Linked DNA regions of Homo sapiens: regions 2 and 3 are each linked to region 1. Evidence: fine-mapped expression QTL. A gene starts in region 1. Each other region holds a variant in brackets. All regions are shown on one strand. Distances are between the middles of the regions.

What was found.
Region 2: its variant is fine-mapped to the expression of NARF in whole blood (TOPMed, PIP 0.98).
Region 3: its variant is fine-mapped to the expression of NARF in whole blood (INTERVAL, PIP above 0.99).

The regions. Positions count from the first base shown.
Region 1 is chr17:82,454,908-82,462,601 of GRCh38, forward strand. It overlaps NARF (nuclear prelamin A recognition factor), which reads left to right and starts at 3,834. Exons shown (of 11, transcript NM_012336.4): 1 at 3,834-3,923; 2 at 5,085-5,165. The coding sequence starts at 3,897. NARF-AS2 (NARF antisense RNA 2) reads right to left here and starts at 3,612. Exons shown (of 3, transcript NR_184099.1): 1 at 2,766-3,612; 2 at 2,531-2,641. RefSeq lists enhancers at 3,173-3,322, 3,756-4,588 and a silencer at 3,353-4,172.
Region 2 is chr17:82,477,805-82,485,498 of GRCh38, forward strand. It overlaps NARF (nuclear prelamin A recognition factor), which reads left to right. Exons shown (of 11, transcript NM_012336.4): 6 at 996-1,114; 7 at 3,278-3,407; 8 at 5,912-5,975; 9 at 7,009-7,146; 10 at 7,693-7,694. Among named protein-coding and RNA genes, the nearest start is that of TRX-CAT1-8, 13 kb to the right of the region's middle. The variant A/G (reference allele first, on the strand shown) is at 4,420.
Region 3 is chr17:82,405,799-82,413,492 of GRCh38, forward strand. It overlaps OGFOD3 (2-oxoglutarate and iron dependent oxygenase domain containing 3), which reads right to left. Exons shown (of 9, transcript NM_024648.3): 3 at 5,657-5,732; 4 at 3,570-3,612; 5 at 620-684. Among named protein-coding and RNA genes, the nearest start is that of HEXD, 8.7 kb to the right of the region's middle. The variant C/T (reference allele first, on the strand shown) is at 2,683.

The DNA of each region.
Region 1 (7,694 bases):
AGGCAATCCTCCCACCTTGGCCTCCCAAAGTTCTGGGATTACACGCATGAGCCAATACACCCGGCCGTAATTTGTTCTTTCAAACATATTACACTTATGTTTTTATTTCATTTTTTTTTTTTTGTATTTTAGAGATGGAGTTTTGCTCTTGTTGCCCAGGCTGGAGTGCAATGGCATGGTGCTGGCTCACTGCAACCTCTGCCTCCCAGGTTCAAGTGATTCTCCTGCCTCAGCCTCCTGAGTAGCTGTGATTACAGGCACCCACTATCACACACAGCAAATTTTTCTATTATTAGTAGAGATGGGGTTTCACCATGTTGACCAGGCTGGTCTCAAACACCTGACCTCAGGTGATCCACCCACCTCAGCCTCCCAAAGTGCTGGGATTACAGGCGTGAGCCACCACACCTGGCCAGTTATGTTTGTAAAACATTAACAAAAAAGCTATACAAATGACAACCTAAAATTATCCTTTTATTTAAACTGAAGTTGAGGGGAGATATTTTCTGAGAGATGCTGACTTGAATTTGAGTAATCTAGAGGGTTAAGACTTCCAGAATTTCATTGTTGCATTTGTAAAAAGCTATACAAAATGAAAACTATAAATAATAATTTTTTTTTTTTTGAGATGAAGTCTCACTCTGTCGCCCAGGCTGGAGTCCAGTGGTGCGATCTCGGCTCACTGCAACCTCCACCTCCTAGGTTCAAGCGATTCTCCTACCTCAGCCTCCCAAGTAGCTGTGATTACAGGCACACACCACCATGCCTGGCTAATTTTTGTATTCTTAGTAGAGATGGGGTTTCAGCATGTTGGCCAGGCTGGTGTCAAACTCCTGACCTCAAGTGATCCGCCTGCCTCGGCCTCCCAAAGTGCTGGGATTACAGGCATGAGCCACCATGCCTGAGCTCAACTTTGAAGTGTCAACTTGAAACTGCCTTTGCAAAGATTAAGGCAGTGATAGAGGCTGGGTGCAGTGGCTCACACCTGTAATCCCAGCACTTTGGGAGGCTGAGATGGATCACTTGGGCCCAGGAATTCAAGAACAGCCTGGGCAACATGGGGAGACCCTGTATCTACAAAAAATTTAAAACTTAGCCATGCACAGTGGTGTGAGCCTGTAGTCCCAGCTACCCCGCGGGGCTGAGGTGGAAGGATTACTTGATCCAAGGAGGTTGAGGCTGCAGTGAGCTGTGATCACGCCACTGCACTCCAGCCTGGGTGACAGAGTGAGACCCTGTCTCAAAAAAAAAAGACAGAGAAATTTCACACAGTTAATTCCGTCTTCCTTTGGACATCCAAGCTGTCCAGTTGTTCCTGGGCATAAGCCAAGCTAATTTTAGGAGCTTTGGGAGGAATTTACAGTTTAACCTTGAAACAAGGATGATAATAGTCCCTTCCTAAAACTATCACCTCCCACTTCTGGGGCTGAAATTGCCTTTGTAAAGCTAATGAAAGGCCACAAGGTTAGGATTGTGGGAGTGGCCTGAACTCTGCTAAAATGCAGGCCTAGTTTCTACAGTCCCTCACTGCTCAGGACTCATGTGGCCAGAGGTCACAAAATTTGCAACTTCCCGAATTGCACCTATAGATAATATCAGTATTGCAGGACCTAAGAATGGCTTTTTGAGATGTTTTTCAGAGTGAACCCACCCCAACCTGCTACTCAGGACTCAATTGGTTTCTGTGGCCCCACCCAGAGGCAGACTCAGTGCTTGAGGACCGTTTTCCACACACCCTTTTGATTTCATTCCCAGTCAATCAGCAGCATCCATTCCCTAGCCCCCTGCCCACCAAATTGTCCATAAAAACCCTAACTGCGGCCAGGCGTGGTGGCTCATGCCTGTAATCCCAGCACTTTGGGAGGCCGAGGCAGGCGGATCACAAGGTCAGGAGTTCAAGACCAGCCTGGCCATTATGGTGAAACCCCATCTCTACTAAAAAATACAAAAATTAGCCAGGCGTGGTGGCGTGTGCCTGTCGTCCCAGCTACTTAGGAGGCTGAGGTAGGAGAATCGCTTGAACCTGGGAGGTGGAGGTTGTAGTGAGCCGAGATTGTGCCACTGCACTCCAACCTGGGTGACAGAGTGAGACTCCGTCTCAAAAACAAAAACAAAAAAACAAAAAACAAACTCCTAACTGCTGAGCCTTTGGAGAGACTGATTTGAGTAGTAACTGTCTCCTGTGTGGCCTGCCAGGTGTCAATTAAACTCTTTTCCCGGCCTGCTGCAATCTTGATGAATTGACTTTTTGTCTGTGCAGTGGGCAGGAAGAACCCGATGGGCAATGGCAAGCTGAAGAATGATGAGATTCATAAATCTGGAAAGGAGAGCTTTACTTCTCATAAAGGGTTTCAGCCTGCAGGGTGGCCATTCTGACAGACAGGGAAGCACTGCCTCTGGCCAGAAGCCAGAAACAGACACTTCCAGGGAGGGGCAAAGGGAACAGGAATCTATGAGGTGCAGTGTGTAAATATACATATTTATCAAGCTACAGGAGAAGTCATGAATATTTTTGAAGAGAGAAACATACACAAACACAATGAAGCTTCAGGCCCCTTCACGAGGGTCATGTCATCTCACCAGAACCACTCCATGGTCAGTGTCTCTTATCAGTAAGGAATACTGGTCAATTGGGCCGAAACTGCAAATGAGAGAGTTGTTATCAGCGGTGGAGTCTTTCGAAAGCGCTGGTTTCCGTTAAGCTCTTAGCCAAGAAAACCTAATGGTAGTTAGCCAAGGGTTGGCCTTAATAACAGGTGTCTCACCTCCCATCTGTCATGGCTGAGAACTGCCTTCAAGGCAACCCTGGGATCTCCTTAGCCAGTAGGGGGTTCGTGTAGTCAGTTGGGGGTCTTTGGATTTCATTTTCATTTCTCAGAGGACAGGAAGGAAGGCTCTAACATGGGGAATCCTGAGAACTGCTGCTGTCTGTTAAATACGCCTACAAGTTATTTTTCTTATGTCACACTCTCCCAGACATGTTCTTACTTCTCATTTCTGATTTCTGTAATACACACACACTGATTTCATAAAACGTTTATGAGTCCAACACTTCCATTATAGCCCTGTATCAATGTTTTGCTTAGCTGAAATCAATTTCTTGGAGGAGTAAGTGTTATCTTTACTTTGTAAGCTGTAAGGGCCCAAATCAATGTACTTGGTAAAACTATCCATAGTGAACACACGCAAATGTCAAATGGCCATCATTTAGCATCTGCCCTCGGGCTTCCGGGTCCATCACGTGGTTACTGACAGGCAGGCCGCGCATGCGCGCTGCTACTCCGCCGAGCCTACGTGACACGACGTCAAGTGGCAATGGCGGCGGACGAGGGCTGTGCCCCCGGCCCGCCCCGTTAGGAGCCGCGAGTAAGGCGAGTGTCCAACGCCGAGCTGGCTGACAGAGCCCGGCCGCGGCCTCCGCGGGCCCAGGGGCCTCCAGGCCCCGTGACCACCGGACCGAGCACCCTGGAACGGCCCCAGCTTGGCCTCGGGACAGTCCGCGCGCTCACCGACTCCCTGGTGAACGCCGCTTGGCCGCCGCCGCCGCCGCAGGACCCACGAGAAGCGGAAACCGGCGCAAGGACCCGGTCCCCCCGGCGCCGTACGTGGAGTGAGCCTGCGGTCCGCCCCGCGCGCTCCGATTGGCTCTGGGGCCTGGCCCGCCCCTTCCCGACACTGTCATTGGCCTAGGCAAAGCCGTAAGGGTGGGGAATCCTATTGGCCCAGGGGTGCGGCTTGTCCTCTCCCGGTGCTCTCATTGGCCGAGCGCGGCCGTTGGGGGTGAGGCCGCGTCGGGGGAGGACAACAAAGGGCCGCGGGCGGCGGGCAGTGGTGTCCCAGTCTCCCGGTGCTTCCCTGAGGCTGAGGCGCCCGGCCTCCCGCCCGCCGCGCTCCAGATGAAGTGTGAGCACTGCACGCGCAAGGTGAGCGCCGCGGGCCGGGGAGGCGCGCGCCTGGTGCTTGTCCTGTGGGGCTCTGGGCGGCCGAGGTTGGCGGTCCGGGCCCGCCGCTCGCTCGCTTCAGGGCTCTTCAAGGCGCCCCCGGCCTCGGCACCCTGGGCCCGCTCGGCGTGGAGGCGGCCGGCGCGGGGTCCGCTGCGCTCTGCAGGGCGGGTTCGGTCTTCGCGGTTCTCCCTGAACTTGTCCATCTTTCCCACGCCCGCGAAGCGCGGAAACGCACGGAGACCGAGCCTCTCGTGCCGCGCACCACAGTCCGAGTAAACAGCGGTCGTGGCGGGAATGATCAGAAGCGTTTCGAGAGGGTTTTAGGCGTTTTCGAACCTGCCCCTCTGAGGGTCACCGAGCAGCCGGTGCAGGGGCGGAAGCGGGTGACGGCTGCTGACCGGCGCCTTCCGCGGTTGTCTCCAGGCCATGGCAACAACCGCGCAGCGCACGCAGGGGGGTTTTGTAGCTGTTATTGCCGGAATGGGCTCCTGTGGATGCTGCTCTGTGGCTGGCACTTCTGCGCGTGACGCCGTGGCAGGAGGCTTCCTAACATTCCATGGGTCGTTCATCCCCGGTGGTGGCTGCGTCCTATTCTAAGTACACCTGTGTCCAGGGGAATTCGCCTGTGGGGTGAAGGCTACAGTTGCTTCTGCTTTTTTATTATTGTAAACAATAGAGATGTGTGTGTGTCCTTCAGTACCTGTTTCACTAGAAGGGTTAGAAGGATAGAAGGCCAGGCACGGTGGCTCAAGCCTGTTATCCCAGCACCTTGGGAGGGGAGGCCGAGGCGGGTGGATCACCTGAGGTCAGCAGTTCAAGACCATCGTGGCCAACATGGCGAAACCCAGTCTCTACTAAAAATATAAAATTAGCTGGGTGTGGTGGCGCACACCTGTAATCCCAGCTACTCAGAAGGCCGAGGCAGGAGAATCGCTTGAACCCGGGAGGTGGAGGCTGCAGTGAGCCGAGATTGCGCCCCTGCACTCCAGCCTGGGTGAGAGCGAGACTCCGTCTAAAAAAATAAATAAATAAACTAAAAGAAAGGATAGAAATACATGAGCTTCATTGGTCAGAATGTGCACATTTTCTTAAGGGAGACGAAGTAAAAGTTCATTGATAATGTTCCTTTGCTTTTTTAAGGAATGTAGTAAGAAAACAAAAACTGATGACCAAGAGAATGTGTCAGCCGATGCACCGAGTCCAGCCCAGGAAAATGGAGAGGCAAGTAGATTTTTCAGTTTTGTATCAGCCCAGAGTAAACTACTGCTGCTGTTTTTCTCTTTGGGGGCTCACAGCACCGTGCACATCACTGCTTTAAAGAAGACTGAAGTACGCGGGCATGGTGGCTCACGCCTGGAATCCCAGCACTTTGGGAGGCCGAGGTGGACGGATCACTTGAGGTCAGGAGTTTGAGACCAGCCTGGCCAACATGGTGAAACCTTATCTCTGCTAAAAATACAAAAATTATCCAGGTATGGTGGTGTACGCCTGTAATCCCAGCTACTCAGGAGGCTGAGGCAGGAGAATTGCTTGACCCTGGAAGACAGAGGTTGCAGTGAGCTGAGATTGTACCACTGTACTTCAGCCTGGGCAACAGAGTGAGACTCTGTCCCAAAAAAAAGACTGAAATAGGCCAGGCGTGGTGGCTCATGCCTGTAATCCCAGAACTTTGGGAGGCCGAGGCAGGCGGATCATGAGATCAGGAGATTGAGACTATCCTGGCTAACACAGTGAAACCTCATCTCTACTAAAAATGCAAAAAATTAGCCGGGCGTGGTGGGGGGCGCCTGTAGTCCCAGCTACTCGGGAGGCTGAGCCAGGAGAAAGGCGTGAACCTGGGAGGCGGAACTTGCAGTGAGGCAAGATCGCGCCACTGCACTCCAGCCTGGGCAACAGAGTAAGACTCCGTCTCCGAGACTGAAATAAACTTGAAGGGGCTAATAAAGACATGTGTGAGACAGTCCATCAGTGGCACAAGGCCTGTCTTCTCAGAACACACTACACCAAAACACACTGCATTGGGAACAAAGAAAACGTGGTGTAATACTGGATTTCTTCTTTTAATTTTTTTTTTCCCCTTTTGAGACAGGGTCTCACTGTCACCCAGGCTGGAGTGCAGTGGCTCACTGTATGGCTCACCGCAGCCTTGACCTCTGAGGCTCAAGTGATTCTCCTGCCTCAGCCTCCCTAGTAGCTGGGACTACAGGTATGCACCACCATGCTCAGCTAATTTATTTTTATTTTTATTTTTTGGTAGAAATGGAGTTCCACTATGTTGCCCAGATTGGTCTTGACCTCCTGGGCTCAAGTGATCCTCCTGCCTCAGCCTCCCAAAGTGCTGGGATTACAGGCGTGAGCCACTGCACCTGGCCTCTCTTCTAATTCAGTTCTTGTTTTTAAATTCTCCTTAGCTAGTAGCTATGGTCTCTGTTTATTGGATACATAACCTGAGCCTGGCTCTCAAGAATGTGATTTTACAGCCAGGCATGGTGGCTCACACCTGTAATCCCAACACTTTGGGAGGCCGAGGTGGGTGGATTACCTGAGGTCAGGAGTTCAAGATCAGCCTGACCAACATAGATAAACCCCATCTCTACTAAAAATACAAAATTAGCTGGGCGTGGTGGTGCATGCCTGTAATCCCAGCTACTCAGGAGCCTGAGGCAGGAGAATTGCTTGAACCCGGGAGGCGGAGGTTGAGGTGAGCCGAGATCACGCCACTGCACTCCAGCTGGGGCGACAGAGTGAGACTCCGTCTCAAAAAAAAGAATGTCATTTTACATGCAGTCTCATTTCACGCCCAGAAGGAACATTACATGTAAGCCTGGCCATTATCCCTGTTTTACTGAGTGAAGGGTGTTGGGAGAGGTTAAGGTCAGTCTACCCTTAGAAAGTACTAGTACCAGTTTATAAATGGAGAGTTGGCAATATGGCAGAAGCATATTTTTTCCTTAAGTTTAGTAGTCCTGACATGTTTAATCTGACAGGTGTTCTCCCGGTTGCCCTGTGTGCCAGTGCTGTGGGGACTGTGGGGCTTAGGGAGCAACAGGGCCTGAGACAAGCAGCCAAAGAGCTGGCCACAGGCAGAAGAGAGGTAGGGTGCATTGGAGCCCTGGAGGCAGCTGGGGCCAGTGCGCCTGAGTGGCCGACCCCAGGGGCCTCCCTCACCTGCCCTCTGGTTGTGTCGTTGTAGACAGATATCTAAGCCCTGTGAGCCTCGTTTCCTTATCAGAGGCCTGGGGAGTAGGGTTACCTCCCTCCCAGGACTGTGGTGAGGATGAGATAACGTGTGTACACAGCCTAAGTGGGCGCCCTGCCAGGTCAGTGATGGACACAGGGTGAGAGGAGTTGGGTTGGGGTTAATGGAGTGGACCCTGAAGAGTGGTCAGAATTCAGGGTGGGAGTGTAGGGAAGGGCACTGGCACACCAGGCAAGAGGAGGGTGTGGACAGACGTGCTCTAGGGAGAGACAGTGGCTCCCCTTGGCCAGGTCAATGACAGTGCAGAGCTGTGGAGACCGTGAGGGGGTGACTCAGGTGTTTGTTTTAGGGCAGGTGATGGAGGTAACCGACTTAAGCTGGCTAGAGTAGGGGAAGAATTGCAGGAAGCCACTTGGGTGGCAGCTTTGAGAGCCTAGGCAGAGGTGGTGGGCCTGGGCAAGTCTACCAGAGTGATAGAGACAGAACAGAGGACGTAGTGCAGGGAAGGGAGTGCAGTTTTAGCTCCACAGACACTGGGCCTTCTACGGTGT
Region 2 (7,694 bases), 23 kb after region 1:
CGCCCGGCCCTGGGGCATTTCTCTCTGTGGCTGCTTCTGTGTCTCTGTGGGTGTTTCCTGAGCACACACGGGCGTCTTTATAGGTGAAACTTTGATTGTTAAATGGGATTATCATGTCTGACTGTGGGACATGAGCTGCCTCTCACCCTCTGGGCGACCTTCCCCGCCAGGAGTAGAGTCTCCCAAGGTATCTACCCAGCCCCTGTTTGAGGGCAGGTTGCGTGGCTCTCATGTACACAGGTGTGCAAGTGTCTGTGGGGTCAGGTCCTAAAATCAGTTGCCAGGTCAGCAAGTTCTGTGATGTTCTTATGCACTCTGACTGGGCTGTACGCCTGCGGGAAAGGAGTAGGCAGGGCTCCTGCGGTGGAATTGCTGTTGTGTGGTCAGCTGCAGTGGTGACTTGTGTTCACCCTGGAAACCACAGCAGCACTCAACCTCAGGAAAGTGCTCAGATTGTGCGGGCATGTAGTGACACTACAGATGTTGCTATTTATTACGACTTGAGGAGTATAGATTTCTTATATTTTAAAAAGCGTGCAGTTGTTGGGCTGTTAGTTTCTCGCCGGTGAGAGAAGTTGGGCAAGCATGTGGCTGCTCTCCCCTGAGCGGTAGCTGCGTGTCCTGGCTGTAAGGACGCTGTAGCTGGCCAGGCGATTTTGCACGGTGCAGCCTGGGCCGCTGCTCCTGCTGCCTTTCAGTGCTTGTTCCCCTTCACCTTTTTGGGGGACCTGTTACTCCGACTCTTACTTGTCTGTCGGCCTTGCAGGGATGCTCCCATTTCCCAGTAGCCTCCAGGCCTGCAGGTTCCCATGACCCACAGCCGGGCCACCGAGGACGGGTTTTGGGTCCAGCACGAGCTCCTGGTAAGGCCTGGGGAAAAGGTGTTCTGGCTTCACCCTGGGGCGGCAGGGACTCGAGCTCAGCATTCCCTGGTGCGTTACAGGAAGACCAGAGGAAGCAGTAAGGAGCTGACCGTGGATCCCTTCTCTCCCCAGGCTGGGTCCGATACGCCGAGCGGGTGCTGGGTCGCCCCATCACTGCCCACCTCTGCACCGCCAAGTCCCCCCAGCAGGTCATGGGCTCTTTGGTGAAGGATTATTTCGCCAGACAGCAGGTAAGCTGACCTCTCTGGAGGGCAGGAAGGGCAGGTGAGGGAGGACCATGGCACAGGGGCCCAGGAAGGGGAGGTTCCCCATCTGTCCAGCGTGGTCACGGCCCCCCAGGTGAGCAAAAAGGAAGCTGTGGCTTCAGGAAACATCAGCAGTGCTGTTTCTCACCAACGCCCGTCTCTATTCCTCCCTTCCTCTTACAACCTTTTTCTTTCTTCTTAACCTTTTCTGTGGCATCTGGTGGTTTTCCTGGGCCCATTCGGGGTAGAGTAGAAATGCTGCCCACCCTGCTGAGAATGAGGCCCCGGACCTTGCCCAGAGATGCTGCCTGCCTGCTGTTGGGATGCCTCACCCAAGGAGGCCTAAAGTGGCCTGTGCCTGGAGGCTGAGGGCAGCTGTCATTTAGGGAGCCAAACCTGGCCTCTGCCCTGGCCTTTCCCTCAGACCACGGGCATCACATGACTTCCTTAGCCACTTCTGTGAGATTCCACAGTGGCCATGATGCTGTCCTCCTCTTGATGGAGTGAGTCCCGGCCTGAGGCTCCTGCGTGCCCCCTGCCTCGGCCCGTCGTGTTCTCCCTTCCCACAACCCTCTGCGGCCCCCAGGTCCTCCCAGAACTCCCTGATGTCTCCAAGGCCACCCTCAAAGGGACCCTAATCCCATGGTTTATTCTCCAGCCGCTGGCATGCCCCACACTGCTCTTCTCAATCAGACTTTACACCTCCCTCCGGGGAAGCAGCCATGTCCAGGCACTGTGGTAACTGGAGTAGAGGGTAACATCAGGATCTTTCAGACATTTGAAGTCAGCCTAAAAAGGCACGCACATTTGGCAGCCTTGTTATTTTAGCAATAGGCAGTGTTTTCCTTCTATCTAGTTTCTTTCTACCCATAAAGTCATAATTTGGCAAATTATAAACATGATGTCAGAGTATACACGTTCAGTTTAGGCAGGACCGAAAAATGAGCTATGGGACTTTCTGTCCCTTGCCCTGCCCCCACCTGAAGAGAGCCATGTGTTTCTAGGTCTTCCACGTGCTGCCCTCTCCCCTGGATGGAGCCCAGAGCTATGTGTCCTCCTGTAGGTGCCATGAGGGGCAGCCGCAGAGACCCGGCCTCCAGCAGCCTCTCACCTGACCACCTGGCACAGCTGCAACCAGGGGCGGGTTTCCTCTTTTGCTCCGCCCCTGCCCTGAGTGGGTCCTTTCCACCCAGACCTCACCACAGGGTCACTTGGCAACTGCTGGCTCCTGGCTTTGCCACCAGTTCAGGCCCAGCCACAGGCACCTGCTCTGTGTGGACCCAGGAGAGGGGTAGCTTGGGTGGGCATCGCTTGGGAAGATTCAGGAAAGTCTGTGGGTGAAGTAGCCAGCGCGCGCACACACACACACACACACACACTCACTCAGGCCTCCTGCAATGGCTCCATGCTGGACCAGCAACAGCTCCACGCCGGCTGGACTTCCTCTTACTTGTTTTGTCCCCATGTGCACAGGTTCAGGAGGAAATGGGCTCAGCCTTCCCGGTTCTTCCAGGAGGCTCCACTGGCTGGGGGGCTTTGCAGATGTTTGGGAGGACCACACCCAGTCCTGAGGGAGGCAGCAGACAGACATGGATGGAGTGCTGGTGCTCGGTAGAGTTGAAGAGGGGATGGGAGCCAGATGTGGCTACAGCACTTTCATCTGTGGGGCCCGGCCTCAGACCCACAACAGTCCCAGCCCCAAGAAAGTGCTGCATGCAGCCAGGCTCGATGGCTCACGCCTGTAATTCTAGTACTTTGGAGGCCGAGGCGGGCAGATTGCCTGAGCTCAGGAGTTTGAGACCAGCCTGGGCAACACGGTGAAACCCCATCTCTACTAAAGTACAAAAAATTAGCCAGGCGTGGCGGCATGCGCCTGTAGTCCCAGCTACTCGGGAGGCTGAGGCAGGAGAATCGCTTGAACCCGGGAGGCAGAGTTTGCAGTGAGCTGAGATCACGCCACTGCACTCCAACCTGGTGACAGAGCAAGACTCCATTTCAAAAAAAAAAAAAAAAAAAGAGTGCAGCATGCAGTGTCTGGAGGGCAGCAGCAGGGGGCATTCGGTCTCCCATCCCTCTTGTTCTGGGCACCAAGCGTAAGCTGCCGTCACCTCTTCACCAGCCCTAAATATGGGTGCCCCTCTCCCACAGAACCTGTCTCCAGAGAAGATTTTCCACGTCATTGTGGCCCCTTGTTATGACAAGAAGCTGGAGGCTCTTCAGGAAAGCCTTCCCCCTGCTTTGCATGGCTCCCGGGGCGCTGACTGCGTGTTAACATCAGGTGAGAGGTGGGCGGGGGTGCACCTGGGCGCTGGGGTAATCTCCTACTGGCCAGTACACACCAGAGCCAGGCAGATCTGTGTCCCAGAGCCATCTCAGTGCCTGCCAATGTGGTCGCTTGTCTGAAGTTACTGACAGCTGAGGGTCCTAGGGGCTTAACTGCAGGTGAAGAGAAGGGTCATGTTCGATCTAGCCTCCTGTCTCCTCTGTGCATCTTCCTCAAGATAAATCAGGTCTCAGCTGGGCACAGTGGCTCACGCCTGTAATCTAAGCACTGGGAGGCCAAGGCAGGTGGATCACCTGAGGTCAGGAGTTCGAGACCAGCCTGACCAACATGGAGAAACCCCGTCTCTACTAAAACTACAAAAAACTAGCCGGGCATGGTGGCACATGCCTGTAATCCCAGCTGCTCGGGAGGCTGAGGCAGGAGAATCGCTTGAACCCGGGAGGCAGAGGTTGCAGTAAGCCGAGATCGCGCCATTACCCTCCAGCCTGGGCAACAAGAGTAAAACTTTGTCTCAAAAAAAAAAAAAAAAGATAAATCAGGTCCTGGGAGAACCACTTGGGCAGTGTGGTGGCCCTAACTTTACATTACAGTCCATGTAAGGTACTTATCTCTTGGTGGGAAAGTTGTCTATAGCCATAGCGGGTCTCCTAATCACAAACCAAGTCTGCACTTAAAACACAAGTGAAGTTTTTTTCATTCAGAATAAAATGAAAAAGGCACGTTTGCTCCAGTGATATTGCCTTTACCACGGTATTGGCCACTCCTTTCAGATGTTAAGAGCCTACAGTGAGTTCTGTGTGTGTTGTGGATGGAAGTGATTCCCTGGAATTATGTAGAACCCATTCAGAAGAATGTTGACATCAGTTGGTGGGGGAAGCTTAAGACTTTGTTAAAATTCTGGCGGAACTGTTTTAATTGGTCTCTGAAAACAGGTCCCTGCAGGTATTTAGATCAGTGGTAGATGAGGCAGAGAGGTCAGCTCTCAGGGACAATCTTTAAGGGCGCC[A/G]ATGTCCCTCACAGGCCCCTGACTTGAAATTCTAGCACGCAGACGCCTCTGGAAAGGTCCCCACCCCATAGGCACAGGCTCCCTGTGGGGTGATGTGGCAGGGGTGTTGAAGGATGAGGGATAGAAGGGTCCTCAGCACGGCCATCCTTCACTCTCAGAGGAAGGGCCCAGGGGCCATCTGCTTACGTTGACAAAATAAAACATGCGCGGTGGGCTGTCAGAAGAACCATGTCCAGCCATCTTTTTTCTGAGTGCAGATTTATAGGAAATTACGCTATTTTCTTACCTGTGTTTCCAGCCATCTCACAGCATCTAATGTGATGCCACAGCCATAGTTTTAGAGGCTCAGTTTTTCTATTAAGGGTTTTTTCAGGCATCCTCATGTAAAAGGAAATACAGAAAGTGGTTCTCACTTTCAGTTGATCTCATTGCAGAATAAACAATTGTCATATAAATGTAGCTGGGTACAATGGCTCAGACCTCTAATTCCAGCCACTCAGGAGGCTATGGCTGGAGGATCACTTGAGCCCAGGAGTTTGAGACCTTGCTGGGCAACACAGTGAGACCTCGTCTCTTTTTTTTTATTTTTTGAGACGGAGTCTCACTCTGTCACCCAGGCTCTGCAGTGGCTCCATCTTGGCTCACTACAACCTCCGCGCCTCCTAGGATCAAGCGATTCTCCTCCCTCAGCCTCCCGAGTAGCTGGGATTACAGGTGCGCCCCACCACACCAGGCTAATTTTTGTGTTTTTAGTAGAGAGGGGGTTTCGCCATGTTGGCTAGACTGGCGACCTTGTTTCTTAAAAAAAAAAGGGCTGGGTGCAGTGGCTGACACGTGTAATCCCAGCACTTCAGGAGGCTGAGGCAGGCTGGTCACCTGAGGTCAGGAGTTCGAGACCAGTCTGGCCAACATGGTGAAACCCCCGTCTCTACTAAAAATACAAAAATTAGCCAGGCGTGGTAGTGCACACCTGTAATCACAGCTACTCAGGAGGCTGCGGCAAGAGAATCACTTGAACCCGGGAGGCAGAGGTTACAGCGAGACAAGATTGCACCACTGGACTCCAGCCTGGGCGGCGGAGGTGAGACTCCATCTCAAAAAAAAAAAAATGCAACCAGTGTATATTTCATCATCCTATCTCTGTGAGCTTGTTATACACAAAAGTTTTCTGTTTGTTTCATGCAAAGTAGGCCAAAAAAGTTTACAGATTTTCCACATGGGAAAATCATGGAGAGATTGTTTACATAAATCCCACAGTTCAAGGGCAGAAAGAGGAATGGAAAGAGGAGTTAGAATTGAATTCTGCTTACGTTTTATTAGTGTTTCATTTTATTGGCCTCACTTTGCCCTTTAGATGGACTCCTGCTGTGTGTGATGGAGATTTCATAAGAGGGAGGTCACCCAGGGTCACTAATGTCAAATCTCCTGCAGGGGAAGAAAAGTTCCTGTGGCCACCTGTGTCTTTTCAGTGTCTTACTTCGTTTGTCTGCAGGTGAAATTGCTCAAATAATGGAGCAAGGTGACCTCTCAGTGAGAGATGCTGCCGTCGACACTCTGTAAGTGGCTTCTCTGGGGAGAGTCCTCTGGGGGGCAGGACCTCTCGTCAGCCCTGCCAGCCACCTGCCAGGCCCAGGGCTGCCCTGCTTTATGACGAGGCCATGTGAAGCACTGCGATGCAGTCCCCCAGGCCCCTGCCACAACCCTCAGCCACCCTATAGCTGTTGAATGGGATACCATTCACCAGGGCTGCCAGGGAGTTGAAGGTTTGGCGGGCTTCCATGGTGTGATTGCCACCCTAAACCCTTGAGGAAGGACAAAATGCACAAACAGCTTTGTCCTCGCTGGCGCAGGGCTGTTCATGTGTGCACCAGCCCCCTTCTTCCTGAGTGCCGTCTGTGCCTCACATTCCGTGTGGTCTATGGGGCAGTGGGGCAGCTCCCTCAGGCCCCTTTGCACCAAGAGTGGCAGTCTGGGTTCTGCTGGGGGCGGTGACCTCGATACCCAGCAAGGCCCAGGGCTCCTGCTGCACCCCAGGCACTGGGCAGAGAGCACCACAAAGGCAGCAGCGTGTGTCCTCGCCAACAGTCCGCATCCCAGGTGCTGCATTCGTGCCCTTTTGGGGGAAGGTAAGATAGAAGTTTACAGAATTTAAGCATCTGTGGGGCCAGGCGTGGTGGCTCACACCTATAATCACAGTACTTTGGGAGGCTGAGGTAGGAGGATCACTTGAGTCCAGGAGGCTGGGGCTGTAGTGAGCTATGATTGTGCCACTGCACTCCAGCCTGAGAGACAGAACAAGACCCTGTCTCCAAAAGAAAAAGACCATAAGCATCTGGAGCACCTGCAAGAGCCTGTGCATGGGCTCGGCGTGACTGAGAGTCCTCCGCCTTGCCCGAGCATCAGGCAGGCCCTCCCAAGACCCCTCAAGATGCTAGAATGGGACTTTCTGCAAAGTTTAAACATCTGTACAGGATTTAGCTTCTTTGGTGGCGAACTTGGATTGTGATGCCCTCAGGAAGTCTGGTTTCACTCTTTCTGTCACTGTACGTCAGCATTCATGAAGGACTTGTATTTTCTCTGCCTTGTGAGGTTTGGAGACTTGAAGGAGGACAAAGTGACGCGTCATGATGGAGCCAGCTCAGACGGGCACCTGGCACACATCTTCAGACATGCGGCCAAGGAGCTGTTCAACGAGGATGTGGAGGAGGTCACTTACCGAGCCCTGAGGTGTGGGGCAGTATCCACAGCCTGTCTGTGCCTGTGGTTAGCACGTGTGCATGGTGTGCCTGTATGGATCTGTGCATGTGGCGGTTCTATGGATGGAGTTTACACTAGTCAAAATCAAAAGGACTTTTTTGTGTTTATTCAGACCTTTTATTTTGCTGACATTCCAAACTTACATTAGAAAGTGTTCTTGGCCGGGTGCGGTGGCTCGTGCCTGTAATCCCAGCACTCTGGGAGGCCGAGGCGGGCGGATCATGAGGTCAGGAGATCGAGACCATCCTGGCTAACACAGTGAAACCCTATCTCTACTAAAAATACAAAAAATTTGCCGAGTGTGGTGGTGAGCGCCTATAGTCCCAGCTACTCGGGAAGCTGAGGCAGGAGAATGGCGTGAACCCGGGAGGCAGAGGTTGCAGTGAGCCAAGATGGTGCCACTGCACTCCAGCCTGGGCAACAGAGCAAGACTCCGTCTCAAAAAAAAAAAGGAAGTGTTCTTAAGTCACAGATAAAGGACTTGATGGATCAAAATTCTCTGTGTTCATTTTGTAGAA
Region 3 (7,694 bases), 49 kb before region 1:
AATTAGCTGGGCGTGGTGGTGCGTGCCTGTAATCCCAGCTACTCAGGAGGCTGAGATGGGAAAATTGCTTGAACCCAGGAGGCAGAGTCAAATGAGTCGAAATTGCGCCACTGCACTCCAGCCTAGGCGACAGAGCAAGATTCCATCTCAAAATAATAATAATAATAATAAAAACAAGGAGCCAGCCGGGAGCAAGACCCAGGGCTAATGCATGAGGCTGACACGGATCCACGCAGGGAGGGTCTCTTTGCTCTCCCGGCCCCTCATGGAGCGTCAAAGGCCCCGTTGGATTCTTGGAAGCTGCTCCTGGGAGCCTCCCATCTCTGCTGCCTCTTGCTCCCATCCCTTCTGTCCCTGGGCCCACAAAAACACCAGATTCCCCTAAAGCTTCATGAACAAGCCCCCTGCCCACAGGCTGTGGAGAGTCCACACCTCCCAGCTCTTGCGTCCCAAAGAACCAGGAAGGACCCGGCCAACATCACAGCCACTGAGGCCCTGAGGCTGCACCGAGCCGGATCCTCCCTCACATGTCCACGTGTCCACATGTCCATGGCTAAGAGGCACGGAGCCGCTCACTCGGCTTTCAGAGCCAGCACTGAGGTCATGCTGCAGCACTCACCTGTACAGGTTCACAAAGTGCTTCCCGACAGACAGGGCCCCTGAGTGCAAGTCCAGAATGGATGCCTGGAAAAGACGTTGTGGAGTAAAGCGTGCAGCCGCAGCAATGGCAATGGCTGTTAAAAGTCATGGATGGTAAATGCGAGTTTCCAAGGTCTGGCCAGCACACACCTCAGGTGTTTTTTTGTTTTTGTTTTTGTTTTTTGTAAAAAGGATCTTATTCTGTTGCCCAGGCTAGGGCGCAGTGGCACAATCTCAGCTCATTGCAGCCTCAATATTCCAGGCTCCAGGCCAAACAATCCTCCCACCCTCTGCCTCCCAAGTAAAGGCGCTCGCCACCACACCTGGCTAATTTTTCTATTTTTTGTAGAGATGTGGTCTCACTATATTACCTAGGCTGGTCTCGAACTCCGGGGCTCAAGTGATCCTCCCACCTCAGCCTCCCAAAGTACTGGGATTACAGGCATTAGCCACTGCACCCAGCCTCAACCCAGGACTTTCTTAAAATCCTCCCAGACCGGCCAGACGTGGTGGCTCACACCTGCAATCCCAGCACTTTGGGAGGCTGAGACAGGTGGATTGCTTGAGGCCAGGAGTTCAAAACCAGCCTGGCTAACATGGTGAAACCCCATGTCTACTAAAAATACAAAATTAGCTGGGCATGGTGGCGAGCTGTAATCCCAGCTGTAGCTGGGACACCTACAGAGATAGCCTCCCAAGGAGCTGTAATCCCAGCTACTTGGGAGGCTGAGGCAGGAGAATCACTTGAATCAGGGAGGCGGAGGTTGCAGCGAGCCGAGATCGTGCCATTGCACTCCAGCCTGGGCTACAAGAGCGAAACTCCATCTCAAAAAAAAAAAAAAATCTTCCTGGACCAAACACTTTTGTTCCCTGTGACCTAAAGAATGGTGGCACGTGTGGGCTATTTTTAGTCTGGAGCCATCTCCGTGCAGCTCCGTGCCAGTCACAGTCATGTGTCCCTGTGGGCAAGTGTTGACTTCTCTCGAGTAAATGCCTCACAGCGGTGCTCCCACCTTGGCCTCCTGGGCGGCTGGCACCACAGTGCGCGCCACGCCAAGCCTGAGTCATCACTTTGTAAGCCACTGCTGAAGTGTTTCCTGCCCGACCACCCACCTCTCAGTCCTTCCCTACGTCCTCAGAGGAAGAGGCTTCCAGCCCACGTTAGTCATCCCACCTGTGACCCCAGAGGAGCCCCACTGCTGCCCCTTCCTCATCGCCACAGCCACTGGCCCTGCGGCACTAACCTAGCTTGGGCCCGCTGAACAGTAACTGAACCCAAAGCAGCGGCCCAGCCAGCTCCATGCAGGACAACTTCCCATGTGAACGTGGAGGAGCTGTGAAACAGAAACCTACTCACTCACAGATCTTTAACAAATAGCCCCCGAACTGAACCAAACCAAACTGAAATAAAGGGAGGAACTTAGGCCGGGCACGGTGGTTCACACCTGTAATCCCAGCACTTTGGGGGGTCAAGGCAGGTGGGTCACCTGAGCTCTGGAGTTCAAGACCAGCCTGGCCAACATGGTGAAACCTCATCTCTATTTAAAATGCAAAAATTAGCCGGGCATCATGGCACATGCCTGTAGTCCCAGCTACTCAGGAGGCTAAGGCAGAAGAATGGCTTGAACCCAGGAGTTGGAGGTTGCAGTGAGTGGAGATCGCCCCATTGCACTCCAGCCTGGGCAACAGAGCGAGACTCTGTCTCAAAAAAAGAAGAAAAAAAGGAACTTAATTTTCAGAACTCAAGAGAAAAGAGTTTGCAGAAAAAAGTCACACAGACCATCACAGAAATACTTTGAAATTCTCAAAGAGTCTATAAATTAATTTTCTAGAAGTTTCAAATATGCAGAAAGACTCAAGTCTATTCAGTGATTATAATTCAAAGCGATCACCAAATAAACAGAGAGAAACAGATCTTCAGACAATTCCACACACCGAGCAAGAAAACAACCCTGAGGAAACCGCATGGGAATTGGAGCTAACACCAGCTGCACCAGACTGACTCCCAGCCACTGCCCAACAGGAGGGCGAGGCCACAGCCGG[C/T]GGTGGCTCCATGATCCCTGCGGCTGTGGTAACACAAACTGGGGCTTTAAAACAACACAAGTTTATTCTCTCACAGTTCTAGAGCCCAGGAGTCTAAAATCGAGGTGTGGGAGGGGCCCTGCTCCCTCCCAGGGCTCCAGGGGAGGTCCTGCCCGCCTCTTCCATGGCCGCACTGCTCCCATCTCTGCCTCCATCATCACAGGACCTTTTCCTCCTCCCTCTCAAATCTCCCCCTGCCTCTGTCTCCTATAGGCACTTGCCATTGGATTTAGGACCCTAAATCTGGGATGATGTCATCTTGAGATCCTTAAGTTAATTACATCTGCAAAGGTCCCTTTTCCAAATCAGATCATGTCCACGGGCTCCAGGTGAACACATTATCCGAGGCCACTAGCTGACCCCCTGCAGCCTCACATGGGACGACAGCCCCACAGGGCGTCCATGGAGGCGTCCAGCTAGGAAGTTGCAGGATGCGTTGCAGCGTGTCTGTCCCACGGAGGCCCTGCTGTTTCCCGGCAGCTCCACGGGCTCTCCTGTGTCCAGCATGCGCAGCCGTCTCCTCGCTGGGCTCCCACCCCGCTCCCTTGCCGGCTCCCTGCTTCCGACCCCCTCTATCCCCCAGTGTGAACTGGAGCCAGGCAGGCCGTGACATGCCATGAATAGATGGCCACGCACATCTAAGGACACACTCTTCCCAACGAGGGGACGCCGCACGGGTTTCAGTCAGGCGCAGCTGCTGCGGCTGGTGCTGAGAAACACCACGGCAGGCCCCACCCACATTTGGGGGCACGCAGGGAACCCTGCATGTCTGTGCCTTCCCCTTCCCATCCAAGTGAGAGCAAAGTTAACGGGTAAAAAAAGGGGGGCAGGGACTACATTCAACTCACCCCTCCGTCAGATCCTCCCAGGGAGAGCCCCTTTTCAGCTACGCTGCAGGGAGAAAATAATTCAGAATTTCGTTGCTAGAATTGTCTATAATGTATAATCTAGGCAAACGTCAATCAGCAAAATTAATGCAACATTAGTGGGTCCTGCGTGTTTAATGTTTATGATGTAAACAAATGTTTAGACCAAAGGACTCAACTTTCAAAGTTCAGTGCGTAAGCGACAATACTGCCATCGTTGTCTTGTCAATATTTGACTCAGCTTAGAAACGACTGGGCTTCAGCACCTTGGGAGGCCAAGGCGGGTGGATCACGAGGTCAGGAGTTCCAGACCAGCCTGGCCAACATGGTGAAACCTCGTCTCAACTAAAAATACAAAAATTAGCCAGCTGTGATGGCAGGTGCCTGTAATCCCAGCTACTCTGGAGGCTGAGCCAGGAGAATCGCTTGAACCCAGAAGGCAGAGGTTGCAGTGAGCCGAGATCGCGCCACTGCACTCCAGCCTGGACAACAAAGCAAGACTCTGTCAAGAAAGAAAGAAAAAGAGAGAGAGAGAGAGAGAGAGAAAGGGAGGGCTGGGCTTAATCTCTCATCTTCAATATCGAAAGCCACCTGGGCCAAGCTCAGGAGCCTGGGGAGCATCTAGGGGAGGGCCCACTGCTCCCCATCTCTCCTGGAACCCCAGGCAGGTGGGGGAAGCTTTGAGATTCACCAGCTCAGGAGATAGGGGCCCTGACCATGGTGGGAGAAAGACACCCACACGCCAGCTGTGCTGGACCACAGAGGACCACCCTGAGCTGCCACAGGTGCTGGGAGCTGCCTGTGGACACCAAGTGGGGACACGCCGGTGCCTCAGTCAGACAGCAGTAACCCCACTGGAGCTAGGCAGCAGTAACCCTGCGTGGAGCTAGGCAGCATCCTCGGGGGCAGGCTCCCTGGGGAGAATCTCAGGGCAGGGCACGTGGCCCAGGGCTGCACACCATTCCACATGCTTATCGTCTCAACAAGTGGTTGGAAAATCAAAACTTTCTTTTAAGATCTCAGTAAGAAAAGTCCAGCACCAGTAGCCTCTGAGTGGCATCCTGTGCTGCCACAAGTCATAGCCAGGTGGGCTGACGGGCTCCCTGGAGGCAGTTTCAGAGCAGACACTGAGCGGTCATTGAGCAGTGTCCCGGAGGCTCCGTGGGGAGCATGGGGCACTCAGCAGCAGCCCCCAGAGGCGGCCACAACCCCTGCAGAGGAACCTGGGCCTCTGGGTACTCTCCCAGCTACTGCTTCGCTGAGGGCCATGGTCTCCTCTCCTGAAATCGGAAAATCTGAGCTTGGCCCTTGAAAGCACATAATTCTTTTTTTTTTTTTTTTTTTTTTTTTTGAGATGGAGTCTCACTCTGTCACCCAGGCTGGAATGCAATGGCTCAATCTCGGCTCACTGCAATCCCTGCCTCCCAGGTTCAAGCAATTCTCCTGTCTCAGCCTCCTGAGTAGCTGGGATTACAGGAGTGTGCCATCACACTCGGCTAATTTTTCATATTTTAGTAGAGACAGGGGTTTCACCATGTTGCCCAGGCTGGTGTCGATCTCCTGAGCTCAGGCAATCCACCCGCCTTGGCCTCCCCAAGTGCTAGGATTACAGGCATGAGCCACCGCACCCAGCCTGGAAATTCTTATAAAATTATAATAAAATCTTTTTTTTTTTTTTGGAGATAGAATCTCGCTCTGTCGCCCAGGATGGAGTGCAGTGGTGCAGTCTTGGCTCACTGCAACCTCTGCCTCCCGGGTTCCAGCGATTCTCCTGCCTCAGCCTCCTGAGTAGCTGGGACTACAGGCACATGCCACCACACCCAGCTAATTTATTGTATTTTAGTAGAGACAGGGTTTCACCATGTTGCCCAGGCTGGTCTCGAACTCCTGAACTCAGGCAATCTGCCCGCCTCAGCCTCCCCAAGTGCTGGGATTACAGGCGTGAGCCACCACGCCTGGCAATAAAATCCTTAAAACCACTTTATTACTAACAATGCTCTGCTTCCCGCCCTAGCCCCACTCCGCGTGTGTTTGTTTGAATCCCACCGTGCTCAGGGACAGGCGGTTACCTGCGAATCCGCTCCGCTTCCTCCCTGGTGATGACGACATCGGTGACACCTCTGCCGCACTTTCGGGGAGTGCAGCCTGTGAAGGGACAGCCAGGGTGAGACGCAGTTTCCAAGGCCACCGGCGCATGCCCTTCCAGGGAATCAGGGCCAGAACTGGCTAATACGCCCGGTCAAATGTGAATTTCAGACACACACAACCACAGCTCTCCAGCGTGCATGCGCTTTGTGCGGTGCATCTGGAGTTCACGTCTCACTGGGCCACCTTGGCTTCCAGTGGCTCCAACTGGAAATTTAATCCAGAGGCACCTGTTGCTGCCCCAAACCCTGGGAAAGTCACAGAAACCCCAGACACGGCGTCAACAGCATTCCTGAACCATCACTGACTGCAGGTCCAGACACCCACAGGCACCGTCAGAAAACCCTTCTGAGACCACCAGAGCAGAAAACCCTCCTGAGACCGCCAGAGAGGAAAACCCTCCTGAGACCACCAGGGAGGAAAACCCTCCTGAGGCCACCAGAGGGGGGAACCCTCCTGAGACCACCAGAGCAGAAAACCCTCCTGAGACCACCAGAGAGGAAGACCCTCCTGGGACCACTGGCGCAGAAAACCCTCCTGAGACCGCCAGAGAGGAAAACCCTCCTGAGACCACTGGAGCAGAAAACCCTCCTGAGACCACCAGAGTGGAGCTTGTGGGTCTAGTCCCAGTCCTTCCCCAGGGCACAGCGAACTGCTCCGCACATGCCCCTGTCTCTCCCCGTACCTTGGTGACCTGCGGAGGCTGAGAGGGAAGAGGAAGCAGCAGCTCAAATGGGGGTCAGGGTGGTCGGGGCAGGGGCAGGGTCGTTGGGACAGGAGCAACACGGTCGGGGCAGGGGCATGGTTATCGGGGCAGGGGCATGGTTATCGGGGCAGGGGCATGGTTATCGGGGCAGGGGCATGGTTATCGGGGCAGGGGCATGGTTATCGGGGCAGGGGCATGGTTATCGGGGCAGGGGCATGGTTATCGGGGCAGGGGCAAGGTCGTTTGGGGCAGCGGCAGTGTCGTTGGGACAGGATCAGAGTGGACAGGAGTCAGGGTCATTGGGCAGAGGAAAGGTGGACAGGGCAGGGGCAGGGTGTTTGGGGCAGGGGCAGGGTGGTCAGACAGGGTTAGGGTGTTTGGGGCAGGGTGGTCAGGGCAGGGGCAGGGTGGTCGAGGCAGCATCGCACAGATGCACAAGGTACAGCAGAGTGTCGGAGAGGGGCCCAGGGACCCGCCCCTGTGGTTTGGTACCAAGTGCAGCTGGCTTCATGCGCTGGAAAGGCGTCAGGCCATGCCTGATCGATCAGACAGCAGCCCACAAGCACCAGGACATGGGGCAAACCGGGACTCCACAATATGCTTTTCCTCCCTCTCCCTACATCCTGCCTAAAAAGCCAGCCCTGAGCCTGGACGTGGAGCATCCCTCCCGGGACCATGGGAATAAAAGCCTCGCACTCAGTGCTGAGTGCCAGCATCAGGGGCTTGGACCCAGGGATCACAAGGCACCGAGATGACCTTGGTTCCTTTCTCTGGGCCTTGTGCCAGGAGATAAACAGAGCTCCACTTGGCTGAATATCAGGGAAGGGGGGCTGTAGTTACTGTGGTTAAATGATCTAATGGACATAGGTGTTGTATTTCAAAAACAAAAAGTCATTTTATGCTTTTTTATAAGGTTTACCCCACAAAACGCGAGGACACAGGAAAGCGGAAAGCAAACAGCAAATGCAATGAGAGCCACACAGGCCCGTGGCGCAGCCTCTGTACTAGCAAAGAGAATCACTAGAGGGAAGAGAGGGTCCCCCGCGGCACAGGAGCGACTCGGCAGGAAGGGGAAGGGGCAGCAGACAGCAGACAGCATCGCCCCATGACACACGTGGCAACCAAAGCACAGACGCTGCTGGGTCCATGCTCAGTGGAGGTTCTGACGCCCCTTTCCATAGCCGGTGGGTGAAGGAGACAGAAACTGGTGATGAGAATTTGTGCACACGAGCGTGGGTCAGGAGAAATACCCACAA